Linked DNA regions of Homo sapiens: region 1 is linked to region 2. The links come from fine-mapping of genetic effects on gene expression. Tissue or cell type: whole blood. Region 2 holds a variant in brackets; the other region holds the start of a gene. All regions are shown on one strand. Distances are between the middles of the regions. Region 1 holds the start of PLEKHA5 (pleckstrin homology domain containing A5). Region 2 overlaps LOC107984527 (a long non-coding RNA gene).

The links. PIP is the estimated chance that this variant, and not a neighbour inherited with it, causes the effect.
Region 1: PLEKHA5 starts here. The variant in region 2 is fine-mapped to the expression of PLEKHA5 in whole blood (TOPMed, PIP above 0.99).

Annotation. Positions count from the first base shown.
Region 1 is chr12:19,125,297-19,133,983 of GRCh38, forward strand. It overlaps PLEKHA5 (pleckstrin homology domain containing A5), which reads left to right and starts at 4,437. Exons shown (of 32, transcript NM_001256470.2): 1 at 4,437-4,592; 2 at 4,755-4,834; 3 at 7,097-7,154. The coding sequence starts at 4,504.
Region 2 is chr12:19,059,101-19,067,787 of GRCh38, forward strand. All of the region lies in intron 1 of LOC107984527 (a long non-coding RNA gene), which reads left to right. Among named protein-coding and RNA genes, the nearest start is that of PLEKHA5, 66 kb to the right of the region's middle. The variant G/A (reference allele first, on the strand shown) is at 5,157.

The sequences.
Region 1 (8,687 bases), 66 kb after region 2:
ATCCAGGCCCCAACTGACTTGCTGGATATGGCTTTGTCCGAGGTCATTTACCCTTTCTGTGCCTTAGTTTCCTTAACTGTTGAAAAACATTATTTACCATTTTAAGTTACTGAGAAGATGAATGAGATCATGCTCCAGAAACACCCAAAACTGGTCACAAAATTAGGTGCTATAAGAATACTAAGTAGTACTATTATTACTGTACTGTGCATCCTGTTGGAATGAGTCATCTTGCTGCAAAGATGCATAAGCGATTCCAAGTGTGGTAAAAGACCAGAGACAATGAGAAGAGGCAGTTTACTCTTAGATGGCATTAAGGGAGAAGATCCCAGTCGCAGTGAAATCTGCCCTTGTTCAACGAACAAAAGCAGGAGGAAGGGAGACAAGACTCTCTTTTCTTTTTTCTTTTTTTTTTTTTTTGAGACGGAGTCTAGCTCTGTCGCCCAGGCTGGAGTGCAGTGGTGCGATCTCCTCTCACTGCAAGCTCCGCCTCCCGGGTTCATGCCATTCTCCTGCTTCAGCTTCCGGAGTAGCTGGGGCTACAGGCGCCCGCCACCATGCCCGGAGAATTTTTTGTATTTTTAGTGGAGACGGGGTTTCACCATGTTAGCCAGTATGGTCTCAATCTCCTGACCTCGTGATCCGCCCGCCTCGGCCTCCCAAAGTGCTGGGATTACAGGCGTGAGCCACCGCGCCCAGCCAACAAGACTTATTTTTTAACTACAGGCATACCTAGGAGACACTGCTGGTTCATTTCTAGACCAGCACAATAAAGTGAACATAGCAATAAAGTGAGTCACACCATTTTTTTGGTTCCTAGTGCATATATTAGTTATATTTATTATACTGTAATCCATTAAGTGTGCAATAGCATTATGGCTAAAAAACGTACATGCCTTAATTTAAAAAATACTTTAGCCAGGCGCGGTGGCTCACGCCTGTAATCCTAGCACTTTGAGAGGCCAAGGCAGGTGGATCACCTGAGGTCAGGAGTTCCAGATCAGTCTGGCCAACATGGTGAAACCCTGTCTCTAATAAAAATACAAAAATTAGCTGGGCATGGTGATGCGCACCTGTAGTCCCAGCTACTAGGCAGGCTGAGACAGGAAAATTGCTTGAGCCTGGGAGATGGAGGTTGCAGTGAGCTGAAATTGTGCCACTGCACTCCAGCCTGGGCAACCAAGTGAGACTCCATCTCAAAAACAACAACAACAACAAAAAAAAAACTTTAATGGTTAAAAAATGCTAATGGATCATCTGAGTCTCCAGCAAGTCTTAATCTTTTCGCTGGTGGATCTTGCCTCAATGTTGTTGAAGGCTGCTGACCAGTCAGGCTAGTGTTGATGCAGGTAAGAGCAGTTGTTGCAGTTTCTTAAAGACAATAGAGAAGTTTGCTGCATCGATTGACCCTTCCTTCCATGAAGGATTTCTCTGTAGCATGTGATACTGTTTGACAGCATTTTACACACAGTATAATTTCTTTCAAAATTGGAATCTATCCTTTCAAACCCTGCCACTACTTTATCAACTAAGTTTATATTATATTCTAAACTATTTGTTGTCATTTCAACAATATTTACAGTATCTTCACCAGGAATAGATTCCCTCTCAAGAAATCACTTTCTTTGCTCATCCATAAGAAGCAACTCCTCATCCCTTCAAATTTTACCATGAGATTGTGGCATTTCAGCCCCATCTTCAGGCTCTATCTCTAATTCTAGTTCTCTTGCTATTTCCATATTTCTAGTTACTGCCTCCACTGAAGTCTTGAACCCCTCAAACTCATCCATGAGGGTTGGAATCAACTTCTTCCAAACTCTTGATAATGTTGATCTTTTGGCTTCCTTCCTTAAGTCACAAATGTCCTTGATGGCATCTAGAATTATGAATTTTTTCAATTTACTTTTTCCAGATCCATCCAAGGACCCCCTATCTCTGGCAGCTATAGCCTTATGAAATGTACTTTCTACATAATAAGACTTGAAAGTCACAATGACTCCTTGATCCATGAACTGTGGAATGCATGTTGGGTTAGCCAACATGAAAACAACACTAATCTCTTGTATGTCTCCAGGAGAACTCTTGGGTAAACAGGTACACTGTCAATGAACAGAAATATTTTGAAAGGAATCACTTTTTCTTTTCTTTTTTTTTTTTTTTTTTTGAGCAGTAGGTCTCAACAGCAGACTTAAAATGTTCAGTCAGCCATGACAGATGTGCTGTCATCTAGGCTTTGTTGTTCCATTTATAGAGCACAGGAAGAGTATATTTAGCATAATTTTTAAGGGTCTTAGAATTTTTGGAATGGTCAATGAGAATTGGCTTCAACCTAAAATCACCAGCTGCATTATCTCCTAACAAAAAAGTCAGCCTGCCCTTTGAAGCTTTGAAGCCAGGCATTGACTTTTCCTCTCTAGCAGTGAAAGTCCTAGATGGCATCTTCTTTCAATAGTAGGCTGTTTTGTCTACATTGAAAATATGTTTAGTGTATCCACCTTCAATGATCTTGACTAGATTTTCTGGATAACTTGCTGCAGCTTCTACATCATTTGCTGCTTCATCTTGCACTATTATGTTACGGAGATGGTGTTTTTCCTTAAATCCCTGATAGCTTCAACCTTTTCTTCTGCAGCTTCCTCAGCTCTCTCAACCTTCATAAGATTGAAGAGAGTTAGAGCCTTGCTCTGGATTAGGCTTTGGCTAAAGGGAATGTTGTAGCTAGGTTGATCTTCTCCCCAGACCACTAAAATTTTCTCCCTATCTGCAATGAGGCTGTTTTGTTTTCTTATAATTCATGTTTTCACCAGAGTAGCATTTTCAATTTCCTTCAAGAACATTTCCTTTGCATTCCCAACTTGTCTAATTATTTGACACAAGGCCGAGCTTTTGGCCTCTCTTGGCTGTTGATACATCTGAGCTTAATCGTTTCTAGCTTTTCATTTAAAGTAAGGGACATGCAACTCTTCCTTTCACTTGGTCACTTAAAGGGCATTGTAGGGTTACTGGTTGGCCTAATTTCAATATTAGGCCATTATTATTAGACAATTATTAGTGTTTCATTTCAGGGAATATGGAGGCCCAAGATGAAGCAGAGAGACAGAGGAACAGCTGGTTGGTGGAGCAGTCAGAACACACACATTTATTAAGTCCCTGTCTTACATGGGCTCAGTTCATGGTGCCCTCAAAACAATTTCAACAGTAACATCAAAGATCACTGATTACAGATCACTATAACAGGTACAATAATGAAAAAGTTTGAAAGATTGCAAGAATTACCAAAATGTGCCACAGAGACATGTAGTGAGCAAATGCTGTTGAAAAACGGTGCTAGGACTTGCTTAATGCAGAGTTGCCACAAACCTTCAATTTGTAAGATGTGAAAGATCTGCAAACAGCAATAAAGTGAATCGCAGTAAAACAAAGTGGGCTTGTACAGCAAGGAGGTTATACAAATATACTTTTGAAATCCTACAGCCAGTTTGAATCCAGGCTTTGGCAGTTATTACTATGACTGGGCAAACTACTGTGTTTTTAAACTTCATTTTTCCTATCTGTAAAATGGGGATTTTTTATAGATTGTGTGTGTGTGTGTATATATACACACACACACACACATATATATATATACACACATATATATATAGTTGTTGTGAAGATTTAAAAATGTACACCGTCACAAGGACTCCATAAAATAAGCTATTATTGTAATCTATTGGAGACAGGGCAAGTAAAAATCCACACTGATGTTAAGTGAATCTTTAAAAACAAGTACCAGAAAAAGACGAGTTTTTATTTTATAAGATATGACCTAAGGGGCCTAGGAAGAGAAAAAACTTGTTTTGTCAAGTCTAAATCCACTCATATTTCATGGGGCCACGTATCACGTCCAACCTTTGATATCTGGCACACAACAAACAAACAGGAAAGGCCTTTCGTGTGCTTTAATAAAAACAGCTTTCCATTTTAAAACGATAAATATATTGGAAAAATCTGTTGGCTCTCCAACAGCTCTTATAAAACAAAGCTCAGACGCTGTGTTTTTGTTGTTTGAAAGAGAGAAATCAGGGGCTTGGGCATTATTAGGCTCCCTTTGATCGCGCCCTGGGATGGGAAGCCTTCGGGCAAAGCCCTGGGGGCAGGACGCGTTTTTTTTTTTTTTTTTTTTTTTTTTTAATCGATCCCGGAACCTTCGCGCGGCGGAGGGGGCGGGCGCGCCGCAGGGGCCCGAGGGAGGGGTCTGGGGCGCGGCGCCGCTTGCCCATCCCCCGAGCGCGCGGCGGGGCGGCCGGCCGGCGGCCGCCGGGATGCGGAGGGGCGGCGACGGGGGCCGGACCCTGCCGGGGCGGCGGGGCGGGCACCGCCCGAGGGGGTAGGGCGCGCGCGGGGGCGCGCCGGGCCGGGGAGGCGCGCTCGCTCCGCGCTCCCTTCGCTCGCTCGTTCCCTCCTCCCTCGGCAGCCGCGGCGGCAGCAGGAGAAGGCGGCGGCGGCGGCTAGGGATCAGACATGGCGGCGGATCTGAACCTGGAGTGGATCTCCCTGCCCCGGTCCTGGACTTACGGGATCACCAGGGGCGGCCGAGTCTTCTTCATCAAGTAAAGAGCCGGGGACGGCACGGGGGCCCGCGGGGGCGGGAGGGCAGGAGGCGGGCGGCTGGCGACACGGGGGAGAGCCCGGGTCTGTGCTCCTGCAGCCCCTCGGCTCGCCCCCGCGTCCCCTCTCACGCTCCGTGTCTGCCCCTTCTCTCACCCCTGCAGCGAGGAGGCCAAGAGCACCACCTGGCTGCACCCCGTCACCGGCGAGGCGGTGGTCACCGGACACCGGCGGCAGAGCACAGGTAACGCCGGGCCCAAACGGAGTTGGGCTCCGCCTGGAGGAGGCGGCAGAGCCCGGGCCGCCCGGCTCCCCGCAACCTGCCCCGCGCCGCGGGCCCCGGGAGGCGGCGAGGCGGGGCGGAGGCCGGGCGGGAGCGGCCGCAGGTAGAGGGGCCACGGGGACTCCGCCGCCGGGAGTTCTCTCCAGTCTCGGGGCGCCTCTTTCTCCTCAGCCTTTCATCAGCACTTGGAGACGGCGCCCTCTTCCTGCGCCTTCTCCCCCCATCCCAGCCTAGACGACCCTCGCGACCCTAGAGTGGCGACGCTCCCCTCCCTGAAACCTGGAGTCCTGAGTTTTTCCTCCGCGGCCGCTACTCACTCCCCGGTGACCCCCAGCTGCCGTCTTGCCCCCCAGCAATCTTCAGGCAGTCCTTACCCACTCCCCTCCCTGCAGCCCCGGACCCCGATCGCCCGCCGGGATAACGTAACCACATCCTCCCCCTCCTCCCAGGAGCGCTGCCTCCTGCCGTGCAGCTTCCTCCTCCTAGGTGGGACTTGTGGGTAGGTGGCTGATGAAGGAGGAGGAGGAGGAGGAGAGGAGTTCGGGGGTGCTGCGATCCTCTCTGTGACAGGGAACGGCTCGGGAAACGCTTGGCGCGTTCCCTCCTGCCACGGGAGGAGCAGCCGGAGCCGGAGGAGGCGTTCGCAGCCTCAGTTGCTGGCGATCCGGATCTAAAGTCCCCGCCAGCCGCACGGAGGTTGCACAGACTGCCAGGAGGCGGTGGGCGTGCGAGGGGGTGTCCCGTATGGGGGCACCCGGGCCCTGTTTGGAGGGAGTCCGTGGGGAAGCGGCTCTCTCGGGTGGCTTTGGGAGCTTGTTTGAATGCTAAGTGTGAGTGGAGCTGGAAAAGGCTCCTCGTAGTTTCTGTACTGGTCTGGGTTTCTTTTATCATTCTTTGTTTACATTCGTGACTTGTTTGTCTTTGAAATGTAACATGTGTTCTCTTACTGGCCTGCCTCTAGTCCTGGTGATTGGAAAGGCTTGAGAGCAGTTTGGGTCGAAGGCGAGGCCAGTTTCAGCAGTCCTCAGAGCTGGCCTCTGGGGTACATTCTCTCGGACTCTGACATTCCGTGAATCTGTTAAAGTTGCCAGGATATTGAACAAACCTGCCTCTCTGTGAAATGCTGGAGTTCACTGAAGTGACTAATGTCTCCAAATTTGCAAAAAGGTGGAGGAAGAAAGGAAAGGCTGGTGTAGCAAGCATGATGAGCTTACATTTTTAAGGCATTTCTGACTAATACACTATCATGTTTCTCAATTCCCCGGTGCAGGCTTTTGCTTCAATATACCTTTCTGGTGTTTTACACGCATATTCCAACTTTGATGGCCTCTTTGCTTTTATGGATAATGATAGATTTATTTCATGAAAGACGATATGACATTTAAATTATTTAGACTAATTATCCTATGGAATTATGAGTGATATAAATAAGTGTCCTAGTTAACCCCACAGATTTGGTAACATTCACGCCACAGAAAAATTTTATTCTTTTATGTGATTTCACTTTTTTTTTTTTCTGGTTTGGTTTTACTTTGCTTGGACTCTGGTTTTGTACACACATCGGTTGTTTTTACTTCCAAGAGGCATTTTGATGAAATCCAAACAACTTGTCATTAATAATAATATGTAGCACATAATGACCATTGTTCACCTGAATCATCCCCAACTTTACTACTTGAAACTTCACGTCTCTTAGTCAAATTTTTAGAAACACACACGGAAGTATTCGGTGTCATTTCTTTTCCATTAATTAAGTAGTTAGGAAGTTCTGCCTTCTTTTTGGTGACACTTCCTAGATGGATTCATTTGTGTAGCTGAAAAATACGGTCTTAAATAGACACAATATACCCAAGAAGAGGCAGGCGTTGCCTGTTATACCCAGCTTTTTTTTTTGCTAGTCATTCATGAGTGTTCCACCTGGGATGAGAAGGCTTCCCTTTGCTTTCTTGGGTGCCAGAACATAGTTCCTCTCCACCCTAATATATTACAGTGTGTGCTCAGGTCAGATAATCTCTAATATTATGGTTACTTTTCTGGTGGCTCTAAATTTGAATTGCTGTTTTTCAAAAAATGATATCTGTTGTATTGCCAGCTCAACACTTTTTTTGTTAGTAATCTACTTAATTAAAACAGCTAATAAATGAAAATGGATAATTAAAATGGATTGAGACTTATTTTGCTATCATTGAAGTAATACTAATTGTAATATATGTATTGTTTTAGATTTGCCTACTGGCTGGGAAGAAGCATATACTTTTGAAGGTGCAAGATACTATATAAAGTGAGTTTTTTGACTTTCATTTTTTTCCTTCGTAATTAGAATGCTGTGATTACTCCTCAGCTGAATAGTTGTATGTCCAGTCTTGATCATGATTTTCTGAAGTTTATCATATAATGGTGACTGTATTCTTTATTTTGTATAGTGTCAGAATTTTGAGAGAAGAAAATGGCACTCTTACTTTTCTAATGTTATTTGCCTGGAATATTCATCGATTCATTGATTTGGAAATTAGATCATTTATGGCCACTTTTAAAAATAATTTTGTATCTTCGTTTTTTTCTTTTGGAATCGTCCAGCTTCATCAGAATATGACCACAATTACCTTTTTTTTTTTTTTTTTTTGGTGCTTCTGTGTATATTCCTGGGTAATAGAGGATTATTGGTCATTAGCTATGTGGTACTTAAAGTTTTGATCTTTGATTATCTGTGCTGAGAGATAACAAACAAAAAAAAATCTGAGTTACGTGAACATCTTTTTTTTTTTTTTTTTTTTAGTGAACCTTGTTCATGTATATTTTGACCAGGGCTGTTTATAGGTAGCAAAAGTGATGTAAAGCTAGGCACAATTTGATAAACAATGACGGTCAGGGAGTAAAAATAGAAATAGTTACTGAATATTTCATGAGCATATATTGGAGCATTGTTTGTATTTTTGCCTCAGTTTATTTAAATATGTCTAAGTCAAGATGTTTTATTGATATGTTTGTTTAAAAAAGGCTTTTAGTAGAGCTTGAGAGAAAAGATGACCAGTCAGTCCCAATCTTAAAACCAGTTCTTTAGAATATTAAACTAATTTATGTTCAAACTTAATAACTTAGTACTACTTGGAGACAAATACAAAGCTGGAGGTCAACATCATGTAGGAAAAATTTTAATCCCCCAACGAAAAATATGGGTGGTTTTGTCTTTTTATTTTTATATTAGAAACTATTTACCTAAGAGTTTGTTTTTATTGTTTAACCTTATTTGTTCTTTAATTTTAATAAACTGAGACATGAAAGAGAATGCTGAAATGCCAAACTGGGTTAAGACTTCAGTAGTTTATAAACAATAACAGATACCTAGCTAAAGTTACCTTTATTTCATTGAGCCTAGAAAGTTATTTTTACTGTGACATTTTTAAGATCATGTTATACTTCCAGTAAATTATAATTACCTGTATGGTTCTTTAATCTTTTAGAAAGATACTTAGATAAAACGTCAAGGGCTTTTTTATAAGTATTAGGAATGCTTGCTTTTGGATGTAGAAATAGAGAAAGCAGAAGATACAGGAATGGAATAGTTTCATGGTATGGTCTTTCTGTGAATATTTTTGGGTGAAATCTTTTCTTTGGAGATTATACTATACATTATTAGATGGCCTAAAAAAATACTTGAGTGAAATGCAGTCATCAAATGTTTTTCTATTGGTTATTTCCATCCTAAATTAAAGTGAGTTGATATTGCCACGAAAAGGGATACTTCTTTTCTTGTCAAGCTAGTAGTATGGTATATGTGAAGAAAAACAGTTTTTTCATTTCAGGTCATTTATTC
Region 2 (8,687 bases):
TTTCTTGAGAAAAATGAAATAAGATGGTAGAATAATTACTAAAATTGGATGTTTAACAATAAATGGTTAAGATCACTTATCTTAGGTAAAGATATGTAAAGATGTATAAAGCCTTAAGCCAAAGTTATTGCTTACGATTGTGACAAACTTGAATTTAGGTGAAAAAAAACTGGATTCAAAAATGTATGGTTGGCTTAGATACAAACTTCTCACTGTGATGCTTGAAGCAAACCAAAATAAAGCCCTCCCTCTATTTTCATAGTCTCCTTTTTTCTATTCCCCAAAGTAGACCTCTCAATATAATTAAATCGTATTATTTCCTCTTCCAAAATATGTTTTACATTTTCTTTTATCTTTGTTAGAATGTTGCTACTGCTTAAAATGTACTTCCCTTCCATCCCAATTAATAATGATAAAAGATTTTATTCATCAGGAAGTTGTAACAACTCTAAATTTATATGTGTCTAATGCTATGACCTCAAAAAGAGTAGTTCATTTCAGGACTATAAAAAGAAATTTGTGAATCCACAATAAAAGAGGCAGATTTTTAACACAACTCTTACTAACCAATAGAATAAAAAGACAAAAAATCAGTAAGGATGTAGAAGATTTGAATAACAGCATAGCAAACTTGTTCTTTTCTGCTACACACAGAATATAGTATTTATTAAAACTGGGTTCTCAAGAAGCTAAAAAAAGAAAAGGAAATTAAACCACAAATGTAAACTAAGGAAATATTAAAGCTAAGAGCAGAAACTGGGTTCTGTCACATATCCTTGTGTTTTGGTTGTTGTTGTTCTGTTTTTAATAACTCTTTCAAAATATAAAAACCGTTCTTAGCTCACTGGCCCAAACAAAAACAGGCCATGGGCCAGGTTGACCTGAGAACTATAGTTTGCCCACTCCTGCTTTAGATCATACAGACATTAAAATGATCATAACAAGATATTACAGGCCGGACACAGTGGCTCATGCCTGTAATCCCAGCACTTTGGGAGGCCAAGGCAGGAGGATTACTTCAACACAAGAGTTCAAGACCAGCCTGGGCAGCATAGTGAGACTCATCTCTACAAAAGAAAAAAGAATATATTATTTTTAAAATTTCATGTCAATAAATTTTAAAATTTAGATGACATGGCTGGGCACAGTGGCTAAAGCCCGAAATCCAGCACTTTGGAAGGCCAAAGCGGGCAGATCACTTGAGGCCAGGAGTTTGAAACCAGCCTGGGCAACCTGGCAAAACCCCGTCTCTACTAAAAATACAAAAATTAGCTGGGCATGGTGGTGCACACCTGTAATCCCAGTTAGTTGGGAGGCTGAGGCACAAGAATCGCTTGAACCCAGGGGACAGAGGTTTCCATGAGCTGAGATCATGCCACTGCACTCCAGCCTGGGCAACAGAGTGAGACTCTGTCTCAAAAATAAATAAATAAAATAAAATTTAGATGACATGGACAAAGCACAAGCTACCAAAACTAAGACAAGAATAAAAAGTCTAAATGGCCTGTTAAAGATACTGGATTCTCAATTTAATTCCTTCCCACAGAGAAAATGACAGGCCCAGATGGTTTGCTGGTAAATGCTACCAAACGTTTAAACAGACTTTTCTAGAGAACAGCAAATGAGGCACTATTTCTCTTTATTTTTGAAGTTATTATGTTAATGTTGATATCAAACCATGACAAAAATGCTTCAAGAAAGAAAAAGTCTGAGTCAGTATCACTCAGAGCACAAATTGAAAAAATCCTAAACAAAATTCTAACATCAAATTTAGCAAAATATAAAAATCTGAGTTCATTCCAAGAGTGCAAGATTGGTCAAAGATTTAAAAATCAGTCAGTTCAATTTATCACATTAGTGGAAAAGAGAAAATTCATATGATCATTTAAATAAATAAAGAAAATACTGTGATAAAATTCAAAATCTATTCATTATAAAAATTCTCATCAAACTAGGAATACAAGGTAATCTTCTTATTTTGTTAAAGAGTACGAAAAGGAAAGATACAGCAAGCATTATTCTTAGCGGTGAAACGGTGTAAGCTTTCTACTGAGATCTGGAAAAAGATGGGTATGTCTGTCGTTACCACTTCCTTTCAACATTGGAAGAAGGTAGCCACCAGTACAGAAAGGGAGCCCAGCTAATACAGAAAAACAAAAGGGAAAGAAAATGAGGAATGGGAAATGGGGGGAAAGACTGGAAAGAAAGAAATAAGAAATAAAACCCAGATGATATGTGCATGTGTTCATAGAAGTGTCAAAAGAATGACAGAAAATTAGCATTAACAAGACAGTTCATCAAAATTGCTACACAAGTAAATAAATGCATTCCTTTTCCTACTTCAGGTCAGGAAGAATATTCTCCTGTTATGTTCTAGAAGCTCCAGAGGCTCCTAAATATATTACTTTATGGCAACAATAAACAGAAAATAAAATTTTTAAATGATACTATTTATTATAAACCAAAAATGTTAAATTATTAAATATTAAATCTAACAAAAGACATATAAGACCTCTATACAGAAAACTATGAAACATTGAAAGACCTTAAAGACTAAAACAAAAGGAGAGACACACCATGTTCATGAGTTTGAAGACTCAATAATGTAATGTCAATTTTCTTCAAACTGCTGTATAGAGTCAGTACAATCCCAGCTAAAATCTTAACCCATTTTTAAATTTGTTTTATATGTGTGTGTTTACATATATTATGTGTGTGTTTATATTTATGTGTTTGTGTATTTGTCTTGTTGTTGTTTTCATGGAATTGGAAAAGCTGGTCCTAAAATGAAAATGCATCAAAATGCAATTGGACCAGTCCGGTACCAAAATGGAAATATATGGAAATGCAATAGACTCAGAATAGTGAGGATACTCTCGAAGAAGAACATGATGCGAGGACTTACTCTACAGGACATTGATACACCCTACATGTAAAAATAATTAACACAATATGGTATTGATTAAAGGACAGACAATAAAACAATGAAATGAAAACAAAATTCCAGAAATAGACCTGTTCATATCTAGATCCTGAATTACAATTAACATGGCACTTCAGAATAGCAGGGAAAGCATAACTTTACAATAAATGTTGCTGACAACATTGGAAATCCCCATAGGTGAAAAAAAAAATGGACTCTAAACTTAATCACATGCCATTCAGAGAAAACAATGCCAGAGAGATTGCAAATTTAAGTGTGAAAAAACAAAATTCTGAAGCTTCTAGAAGATGTTAGTAGAATTTCTTCATGACCTAGATAGAATTGGAAAAGACTTCATAAACAGGGCACCAAAAGCAAAATCATAAAAAGAAAGACTAATTAAAGTTACTATATCAAGTTTATTGAGACATCAATAAGAGAGTAAAAAGTAAGCCATGAGTAGGAGACAATATTTTTAATATACATAAACAATTCTACAAACCAATAATAATAAAGGTGAACAACCAAATGGAAAAATGTGCAAGAGATTTGAACAGCCAACTCACAAAAGATGATATCCAAATAGTCAATGAATGTATGAACATGTGAAAGGTACTGAACTCATTGGTTAATGTAAACTCAGGGAAAATGTAAACTAAAAGTAGATAAAGTACCACTACAAACCCATCAGTGTGGCCAAAACTTAAGACTGAAAATACCAATCATTGAGGCATTCACTATTGTTTAGCATATAAAATTAATGCAATCTGCTTAGCAGAGTCTGGCAGTGTCTAAGGATTGAATACAAGCACACTGTAGATCTAGCACTTCCCCTCCTAGGAACAGATATAACAGAAATGTGTACATATGTGCACCAAGCGCCATGTAGAAGCACGTTCTTAGCGGTATTATTTGTTTTTGCCTCAAACTAAAAATACCCAAATGCCCATTAACAGTAAAATTGATAAATGAATTGTAGCTGTAATTCTATAATGGAAGATTAAAAAATACTGAAAAATAAAAATTACAGTTAAAATAAAATCCTGAGTAAATTTCACAAATATGACGAGCAAAAGAAACCAGCCATGAAAGCATTTATATTGTGTAATTTCTCACTATATAATTCAAAACAGACAAAACTAAACTATAGAGTTTAGCAACACATGCCTAGAGATAAATCTATAAAGCAAGCCAGAAGATGATTACAATAACAGCCAAGGGAAGATGAAGGGAACGTAAGTTGGATTTCTGGGGTGCTGGCAGGATTTTGTTTTACTTTTATTTTACATTTGGGGGGTACATGTGAAGGTTTGTTACATAGGTAAACACCTGTTGTGAGGGTTTGTTGTACATATTATTTCATCACCCAGGTATTAAGCTTAGTACCCAAGAGTGATCTTTTCTGCTCCTCTCCCTCCTCTCACCCTCCTCCCTCAAGTAGACCTCAGTGTCTATTGTTTTCTTCTTTGTGTTCATGAGTTCTTATCATTTAGCTCCCACTTATAAGTGAGAACATGTGGTATTTGGTTCTCTGTTTCTGTGTTAGTTTGCTAAGGGTAATAGCCTCCAGCTCCACCCATCTTCTCACAAAACACATGATCTTGTTCTTTTTTTGTTTCCTTTTTGAGACGGAGTCTTGCTCTGTCACCCAGGCTAGAGTGCAGTGGCGCGATCTCGGCCCACTGCAACCTCCACTTACTTCCAGGTTCAGGCAATTCTCCTGCCTCAGCCTCCCAAGTAGCTGGGACTACAGGCATGCACCACTATGCCCAGCTAATTTTTGTATTTCTAGTAGAGACGGGGTTTCACTATGTTGGCCAGGATGGTCTCGCTCTCTTGACCTCGTGATTTGCCTGCCTCAGCCTCCCAAAGTGGATCTTGTTCTTTTTATGGCTGCATAGTATTCCATGGTGTATATGTACCACATTTTTCTTTATCCAATCTGTCGTTGATGGGCATTTAGGTTGAGTCCATGTCTTTCCTATTGTGAATAGCGCTGCAATGAAGATTTTATTTCTTGATCTGGGTGGTGGTTACATGCCTTATGATAAATTATTAGGCCATACGTTTTTGGTTTTTTGGTTTTGTTTTTTTTTTTTTTTCAGACGGAGTCTCACTCTGTCGCCCATGCTGGAGTGCAGTGGCATGATCTCAGCTCACTGCAACCTCTGCCTCCCGGGTTCAAGTGATTCTCCTGCCTCAGCCTTCCAAGTAGCTAGGATTACAGGCACCT[G/A]CCACCACGCCCGGCTAATTTTTGTATTTTTAGTAGAGGCGGGGTTTCACCGTGTTGGCCAGGCTGGTCTCAAACTCCTGACCTCAAATGATCCACCCACCTCGGCCTCCCAAAAAGTGCTGGGATTATAGGCATGAGCCACTGCACTTGGCCTGTATATGTTTTAATTGCAAAATTTAAAAGCTTTTTTAAAAACCTTCAACATGAACCTGTTGGTGGTATCCAGTGATACTGCTACTTGCGGCAAATGGCCTGTTAAATTCAGTCCTGGCCTTTGCATTGTGCTTTCAGTAACCATATATGAAAGCCCAACACAGCAATTCTTACTGAAGCTATCATCTCACTATTTAAATGAAAGACTTTAGAATTTTTCTTTTTATGCAAAATGAATTGTAAGGATTTTCAGAAGAGAAAGAACAGCAAACATCTCAAACCACATGTAGTTTTAATTAAAACTCTCCTAGTAGAAAAAAAAAACGTTATCATCAGCTGCTGTATGTACCCTCTAGGACCTCCATAGGAGTGCTCTGCTTTCCTTAGGAGAACTGTCAATATGCACACACACTTGAAACAGATGAGAGACTTAGCAGCAAAGATCCTCATCCTGTGTGGTAGCCCATCACAGGAAGGGGCAATGGAGCCCAGTGAGTTCTCTCTTCACCATGGAGCTGCCTGCCACCCAAGACAGGCATTTAACGTGTTGGCTCTGGCAACCCTCACTTCCCTTGTCATTCCAATTAAGCTATTAAAATCAATGCAGAAGTCTTAGCTACTTGGGAGGCTGAGGAGGAAGAAGCATTTAGCCCAGGAGTTCAAGACCATCCTGGGCAACTTAGAGAGGCCCTGTCTCTACAAAAAGAAAAAAAAAAGGGGTTTTTTTTTAATTAGCCAGGAGTGATGATAAATTATTAGGCCACTACAGGCCTGTAGTCTGAGCTACTGGAGAGGCTGAGGCAGGAGGATCACTTGAGCCCAGGAGTTTGCTGCAGTAAGCTTTGATAGTGCCACTGCACTCCAGTCTGGGTGACAGGGTAAGATGCAGTCATTAAATAAATAAATAAGTAGAAGTACTTAAAGCTAAAGTGTTACAGTAGATGTTCTTAAAGGGGTCAGAAATTTGTACCCTGACTTCTTAGCAAGATGCTTTTCCACTTTGTTAACCTCAAAAAGAAAAAAGTCTAAAGGTCACACCTATATTCCGTGGCTTCATTGATTTCTTCAGTTTCTTTTCCACTAGGTGAATGTTTACCCTCTCGATATTTTTTTAAAATTTCTATTTGATATGAGAGAGTAAAAGTTTACACTTTAAAATCCTCTCCACTCACCTTCACCCTCCCCCAACCAAACCTCAGCTTTTCCTGGACCAAAATCTCAACTAGTGTCCACAGACATGGATACATACCTAGAGCAAAATAAATCAAATGGGAATTTTAATGCACTCAATACAGTTGAGCTAAAAGTCACTTATTTTATGAAGAAAAGATAACAACCTTTCTTATGCTAGAGCACACTCGCTTCTTGAACAAAGTTCAGTGGTTAAAGCTGGTGGGGAAACGACCTATTTCGGATGACAGATAAATAAATTCCAGGTTAAATACTAGAGAAATATCTTAATGAAGATTTTTTCAGACTAGAGCAACCTCCTGAGGGAAACAGTTTGAAGTGACATCATTTGAGACATTTAAATTATAGTGGATAAAGTACTCAAACCCACCACAAAGAAACACTCTTTGTAGAACTCATGGGAAAATTACTGGGATTTATAATAGGCCTTTTCTATGAGGAGGTAAGCCTGCCTACGAGGCAGACCTGCTATTGAATAAATGTTATTTTAAATGGAGTGTGGCTGTATTGTAACTCAGTTCCTCCTTCTATGGAGAAGAGCATGAATGGGTAGGTTAGCCAAAAAATTAATAGGTTTTTTCTTTTTAAAGCAGTAGATTTCTTCACAAAGCCTACCTAATTATGTGAGTTTTTCCTCAAGAATGACATGCTTCAATGCTCATTTTCTTTCAACTATTTTTTTAAATGTTATCTACCCCAGGACTTCCAACCCCCTTTCTCTAACAAATCAGCATGTAGCAGAGAAGTTCTGAACTAACACAGCTTTGAATGTCAAATGTTTAAATTTGAATGTTCTGCCTTTTCGATAAAATGAATTTAACAGTGACCCTCCAAGGATTTTCCACTTCCAGTCTTACCCAGAACAGCCCTCATTAAGCATGTAGCACTCCACAAAGAGTAAATCATTTATTTGGAATCAGCCCTTATGAGCTAGAAAAACTACCTTTCAGAAAGCCTTCATTTCAAAGGACAATTGCCATATTCTGTAAGCCTATTGATTTTTCTTCACTGTTGGAATGAAGAATGTAAACAGAATTGCATATTTACTCATTGCCTTTTCTGATACCTTTGCTCTGAGAGCTCAACACTTCTGTCCCACGTGTATGAAAGGCTGCTCTTTCCAGAGCTGGTCCGTGTGAGATGATTAATGAATGGCCAGACAAAATTCTGATTAATGCTCCACTATTAAGATTTGCCTTTACTTCAAGAGCTTTTTATAAGTTCATAGTTTTGACCCCACAAACCTTTCTCCCCTCCCCCCCCCGCTTGGTAATTGCTAAAGTTTGACAGCCACTGTGTTTGCTGCCTGTAACATATGGCTAATTGAATCAGAGTTGGGGAAAGAACCAGTAGATTCCTAATTATGATCCACTCCACAGATCTGAAGCCTGAATAAGCAGGAAACAAGGAAAAGGCTGCAGAGCCTAGAAAACCTATTATAGCGGTGATTGTAGCAGGATGCAAACATTTCTAAAACTGACTGAATATCATTTATTTAGAAAGCGTAGTTTGCTTTCTGTCTTTTAATTACACAAAGCAAAGAAAGATTAGAGAGAGATTTGCTTTTATCTGTGTGATTTTTGCACGTCTGGACACTGGACACCTCATATTCTCATAATCATATTTTAGTAGACATTTGCATTTCTAATAAGGCAAACACGCTGGATTTTCATCTTATAGGTTCTTCTCCATCCTCAACACTCCAGTTATGAAGACACATGTATATATTTTTAAATGCGTGTTTCAATTTCAAATGAATTTTTCTACAGCAGTTAATGGTAACATATGTCCTCTGAATTGCTTCCCCCGGGGTGAAGAGTAAGGCAATAAATGAAATATTCATCGAATATTGCTGCTGAACATTTAACTAACAATGCAAGGCACATTACTAGGTGTCAGAAGGGTAGGCACACGATAAAACACAGCTTTTCCATTTGTTTTCAGTGCTTGGGGAAGTAAGCAAGATGAACAGTAGCAGTATAATGTGAGATAGGTCATGGTCTATACATAAGGAATATGTTATTTGATTAATGCCTTCCATTAGACTATAAATGAAACCTAGCACAGTGACACAAAATAGGTTTCAATAAATATTAATTATGAATGAATAAAGGAAGGAGGGAATATAATATACAGTTGTATTGGACTTTTGAGAGAAATCACTTCTGATTATGGGATTCTAGAGAG